2 separate regions of the Homo sapiens genome follow, and region 1 is linked to region 2. Evidence: fine-mapped QTL for protein levels in blood plasma. A gene starts in region 2. The other region holds a variant in brackets. All regions are shown on one strand. Distances are between the middles of the regions. Region 1 overlaps SYN2 (synapsin II). Region 2 holds the start of TIMP4 (TIMP metallopeptidase inhibitor 4).

Region 1 (2,918 bases), 100 kb after region 2:
GATTGTCTCATAGTAACAGTAAAAGCATGTCACGGGAGTGGAAAAGCAGAAAGCTATAGAGATTGGAAACCAGTTATCCATAAATTAAGAGCCCAAAGTTATCAGACTGAATCAAATGCTGAGAAATCAATAATCAAAATCAAAACTACAAAATATAAAGCCAACTTTCTAAAATCAAACTGTAACCAAAGAAATAAGTTTGAATCTTAGTCATCCTACAGGCATGTCTAATCCAAATTTATACAATGTTCATGGCTAAAGTCATATCACATAAGAGGACTGAAAATAAAATCCCTTCCTGTAGCCTAATTTTTATATGTTTAAGATTGTTCTAGGACTTCTCAGCTGCTGGACTATATTTGAAACTCATTTCAAATATCTTTGTTCATGTTTCACTAGAAAAACAATTCCCCTAAAAATAAGGGATTTAAAGATGTCAAAAAGTATACACACACACACACACACACACACACACACACACACAGACAGTCTTGCCTTGTCGCCCAGGTTGGAGTGCAGTGGCACGATCTTGGCTCACTGAAACCTCTGCCTCCTGGGTTCAAGCAATTCTCCTGCCTCAGCCTCCCGAATAGCTGGGATTACAGGCGCATGCCACCACGCCCAGCTAATTTTTGTATTTTTAGTAGAGATGGGTTTTCACCACGTTGGCCAAGTTGGTCTTGAACTCCTGACCTCAAGTGATCCGCTTGCCTCAGCCTCCCAAAGGTGCTGGGATTACAGGCGTGAGCCACCACACCTGGCCCAGATGTCACTATATTTTCATATCTTGTCTTAGAATTATCATTTTTGTTCTGTTAGAACAAGTAATATAACCAGTCTTTTATATAACAGATTAGTTGAGAGGGTGAGAATATACATGTTTCCATATAATTTTTAATATACACAAAGGACACAACTTTTTAGGAGGGTGACTAACTGAAGGCTAGATACTATAGACACTAGGTTTAGAGAGACATTGGTATACCACCCACACTTCTATTTGCCAACATCAGTAAATGAGGGAAGTAGAAAGTCTGCTTTGGAATCAATCAAATTTGGGCTTGAACTCCTGCCCCCTACTCATTACCATGAGGAAATTATTTAACTTCTGAGACTCTGCCAAATAAGAATAATCCATTTTGAATGTCAAGATAACAGGTGTGAAATGCTCTAGTACAAAGTCTAGTATACCTTAGGCAAAAATATTTTTAATATATAGGTGCCCTTCTTTTCTCCTCTCTGCCCACTAATCCTCTTGCTCTTGTTCATACAACAGAAAACATTTTTTTCTTTAAACTTTATGTTGTAAAATAAAACAAAGATACAGAAAGCCACATCAAAATTAAAAAAAAAGAGTATTGCTTAATGAGTTTAATGAGTTGTTATAAGGCAAACACTCATGTATCCACCATCCAGGTTAATAAACCAATTTTGACAGCCACCCCAGGAGCAACTTCAATACCCAGTCCCAGTCTTGACCCCCTCCTTCCCCGCAAAGGTAACCACTCTCTTGACTTTTATGGAATTACTTCCTTATGCTTGTATTCAAGTGTATATTCTTAAACACTACAGTTTACAGTTGCCTATTTAAAAAAAAAAAAA[C/A]AAAACACAACTTTGTCTTCCAAATCTCTTTTAATCCACAGGTTTCCCTGTGCATCCCTTTATTTTCCTTAGAGTTGATCTGTTCAAGAGCCTGGAGCATCTTGATCCATATGTAGAATTTCCCATAGTAGCAGTTTTGCTGATTACACTCTCACCAGGAAGATCGTCTTTCTCCATTCTTTGTGTTTCCCACAAATTGGCAGCTGGACGCAGAGGCTTGATCAGACTCCTGTTAGATTCCTTTTATCAGGAGCTCATAAAGTCTGCCTTTCTGTGATATTAACAGCTGTTGATGTTCAATACCTAGATGCATTAATTCAATGGGAGTTGCAAAACGGTAATACTCTAATTTTATCATTTTTATGCAAAAATTCATTTTATTCCCATGTGCCAACAGCCAATAAATAGAAAATGAAATTCAAAGAGTAATACCATTTATAATAGCATCAAAAGAACCACCAAATACCCAGAGAGAAAGGCAACTAAATATGTAAAAGACTTCTGCCTTTAAAAACCACAAAGCATAATTTGAGAGTTTTTAAAGCCTCAAACAGTTGGTGGGATATACCATGTTCATGTTCTAAAAATTCATAACTGCAAATATATAATTTCTCCAAAAATTGAACCACAGAATCAACACAATCACAAAATCCCAGATCTTTCCTGTATGCAAGGAAATCCATTATTTTTCATATTTCTTTTTTCCTTTAAGTTTATTCTCTTCATTTGATAACTTCACAAAATGGAGCTCATTCATTTTTAAAGCTTTCTTGTCTAATATATTTAAAATAAAAGTTTTCTTCAAAATACTGCCTTTGCTGCATCTCTTAAATATCGTTATGTAGTGTTTTCATTGTCATTACCTTCTAGGTATTTTTAATTTACATTAATTATTTAGTGGTGTTTTCAAATTTTCAAAATACATGGGGAATTTTTAAGATTTTCATCTTTTTATATTAACTTCTAATTTCATTATAGTCAAAGATCATTCTATATCTTTTTGAAATGTGTTGATGTGTTCTCTGCTTTATTCATATTAATTTTTATGAATGTTCCATGAATATTTGAGAAACTGTGTGTTCTTAAATTGTTAAATATAAAAATCTATATGTCCAAAAGGTCAAGTATCAAGCTTTTTAATTTTGGCATTCAGATCTCCTATACTGTTCACTTTCTGTCTTCTTGACCAATCAATATTAAATTTATCAACACTAATAAAGGATGCTAGAAAACAAAAGCAGTACTTTTCTAAATTTTGAAGAAAAATTATTTTTGACCCAGAATTCTATATTCTACTAAACTATCAAATGTATGGG
Region 2 (2,918 bases):
AAACATCCCACAGCAATAATCCCATGGAGATTTGGGATTTGGAGGCTTGCAACACTGTGCCCAAACAGCAGACAAGGCTCTGGTCACAGTCACCCCCAAGTCCCCTGCTTCTTTGTTTTTTCTTTTACTTTTTTTTTTTTTTTTTTTTTTTTGAGACGGAGTCTCACTCTGTCGCCCAGACTGGAGTGCAGTGGCACAGTCTCAGCTCACTTCAACCTCCGCCTCCTGGGTTCAAGCCATTCTCTTGCCTCAGCCTCCTGAGTACCTGGGACTACAGGTGTAGGCCACCACGCCCGGCTAACTTTTGTATTTTTAGTAGGGACGGAGTTTCATCATGATGGCTAGGGTGATCTCGAACTCCTGACCTCAGGTGATCAACCCGCCTTGGCTTCCCAAAGTGCTGAGATTACAGGCGTGAGCCACCACGCCCAGCCTGCTTCTTTGTTTTCTAAGCTGTCCCACCTTCTAGAACATGACAGAGTCTCCAGTGAGAAGGGACATGCAATAAAAATCAATGTAGTCTAGGGCCTCGAGAGGGCTTTGAGGTCCAAGGTTTGCCCTAAGTGATGGGACACTTTGTGTTTTGTACACCAAGAGCGCTGTCTCCAGCTATCTGGAGAGTCTGAGGCTCTGGGAGTGAGAAAGGGTTTCTAAAGCACTGGCTGCTTCTTTGACATCTCTCCCCACCCCCCAGGCAACAGAGCCAAGACACACACACCCCAACTTTCTCTGTCCTGTTCTATTACTGTTTGCTGTTGCTTTGGAGCCTCATAAATAGGGCATTGAAAGCACTTCCTGCAGCTGAAAGAAGCCCTGAGTAGCTCGTCTCATTCCCAGCGTGCAGCTCAGCAAGGGGTCCGTCCTTCTCTGTCACTGTCTCTTTTGCCTGTTGTAATTCTGTCTGCCTCTCTGGGACTCTGCCTGTCTCACTCTTTCTGTCTGTGCCTCTCCTCACTCTTGTTCTTTCTGCCTGAATCACAGCCCTCAGTTTTTCTGTCCTCATGCATTTGTCTTTGTGGCTCTTTCCGTCTTTCTGCCCTTGACACCATCCCCTCTCCCAGTGCTTCCCCTCTGCTTCCAGATCGCTTCATGACTTAGGCAGGGAAACAGAGGTCAGGGCCTCCTTCCAGGCTTCCCTCTGCATCTTACTGAGTATGCAGGTCGGAAGAGCCTCGGGTCCTGCCTCCGCGGGTGGCCTAGAGCCAAAGGAAGGCGGAGCCCGTCGGGGCGGGATTGGCCCTTAGGGCCACCTCATAAAGCCTGGGGCGAGGGGCACAACGGCCTTGGGAAGGAGCCCTGCTGGGGCCGTCCAGTCCCCCAGACCTCACAGGCTCAGTCGCGGATCTGCAGTGTCATGCCTGGGAGCCCTCGGCCCGCGCCAAGCTGGGTGCTGTTGCTGCGGCTGCTGGCGTTGCTGCGGCCCCCGGGGCTGGGTGAGGCATGCAGCTGCGCCCCGGCGCACCCTCAGCAGCACATCTGCCACTCGGCACTTGGTGAGTCCGAGGTCCGCGAGGTCCACAGCAGGGGGTGGTTGTGGGGGATTAGTATCTGGCCAGCAGTACACCAGGAGTCCAGAGGAAAAGGGAGGAGCTCAAATTCTTACCGGTTGTCTCTTGCTGAGGCTGATGGGTGGAGAAGGACCAGGCGCCATAGCAACCTTGCAAGCCCAGAACCTGACTGATTCATAAGGAAATGAAGATTTCATCAGGGACTTCCATAGCGACCTCCCTCACTCCGGCCATACTGCAATTATGGAGTGTCATTACACAAGGTGTCACCGGAGCTATCTGATGATTATTCTGAACTACTAGACTGGGGACAGAAAGGGGAGGGGAGAGGGCTTGCATTGTAACTACCCGTGTCTGTCCAGGCCTATAACTGAGGTTGCCACCAAGCCCCTATGGCAACACACACGTTCTGTCCTTTCTCTTCCCTCTGCCTGGAATGCCCTCCCTCACACCCTTAAATTCCTGGCAGACTCCTACTCATCCTTCAAGGGCTAACTTAGGTCTCTCCCCTTCTCTGCAGGCTCCCGGGCTCCTTGGTGCCGCCTCAGCATCTCTAACCGTCTTAGCGCTCCTACTATGCTGTGCTGTTGTTCTTTACACGTGTGCACTCCACTAGATCAAGAGCTCGGCAGGATGGGGACCCTGTCTTAATCACATCTATGGGCCTAGTGCCTAGTGCAAGGCCAGGCACAGAGGAAGAACATCATCAACAGTTTTTGGTTATTAATGCTCAAATGGCAAGAGATGCAATACCTCAGTGCAGGGTCAGAACATTTATGAATTCAATAAACATTTACTAATATCAACTGTAGGCGGGATGAGAGGCCTTGACCACAGCAATAGATAAACTTCACACCGACTGCCCTGAAGGGGCTCCTCCTCCCTTCTCTACTCTGACTCCTACCCTGTGCCCCACTGCACAAACGGCTATGGAGAACTAGAGCTCTCCAGACTAACTGGTTCAAAAGGCAGAAACAGCTTAGCGGTTATAGGACCTAATAAGCCTGAGGGGTTTGGAACTTCCAGTGACTGCAGGGGAGGTGTTTCCAGGTCCCCCTTCTCACACATCACGTTGCTCACAACCCAGCCACACCAAAACCAAGAACTGCCCTATAGACTTCTTCATGGACCCTGGATCATCCAGACCTCAGGTGTATTGCCCCCACCAGCTGCTGAAGGTTCCCTCTTTTCTCTTCCTATGCAGTGATTCGGGCCAAAATCTCCAGTGAGAAGGTAGTTCCGGCCAGTGCAGACCCTGCTGACACTGAAAAAATGCTCCGGTATGAAATCAAACAGATAAAGGTACATGGGGGCAGGCTGGGATGTGTAGCCCCTAAGGCTGATGGAGAAAGTGGAGTCTGTGTTCTGGGAGGGCTGGTAGCTTTCAGGTGGCCTGGCTCAGTAATCCTT

The links. A credible set is the group of variants that fine-mapping cannot tell apart. PIP is the posterior inclusion probability: the model's chance that the variant is causal. Protein levels are from the aptamer-based SomaScan assay of Sun 2018.
Region 1: its variant is the best candidate, but not a certain one, in a credible set for the plasma level of the TIMP4 protein (Sun 2018, PIP 0.90).

What each region holds. Positions count from the first base shown.
Region 1 is chr3:12,054,854-12,057,771 of GRCh38, reverse strand. All of the region lies in intron 1 of SYN2 (synapsin II), which reads right to left. Among named protein-coding and RNA genes, the nearest start is that of SYN2, 52 kb to the right of the region's middle. The variant C/A (reference allele first, on the strand shown) is at 1,603.
Region 2 is chr3:12,157,277-12,160,194 of GRCh38, reverse strand. TIMP4 (TIMP metallopeptidase inhibitor 4) reads left to right here and starts at 1,283. Exons shown (of 5, transcript NM_003256.4): 1 at 1,283-1,493; 2 at 2,713-2,810. The coding sequence starts at 1,355. All of the region lies in intron 5 of SYN2 (synapsin II), which reads right to left.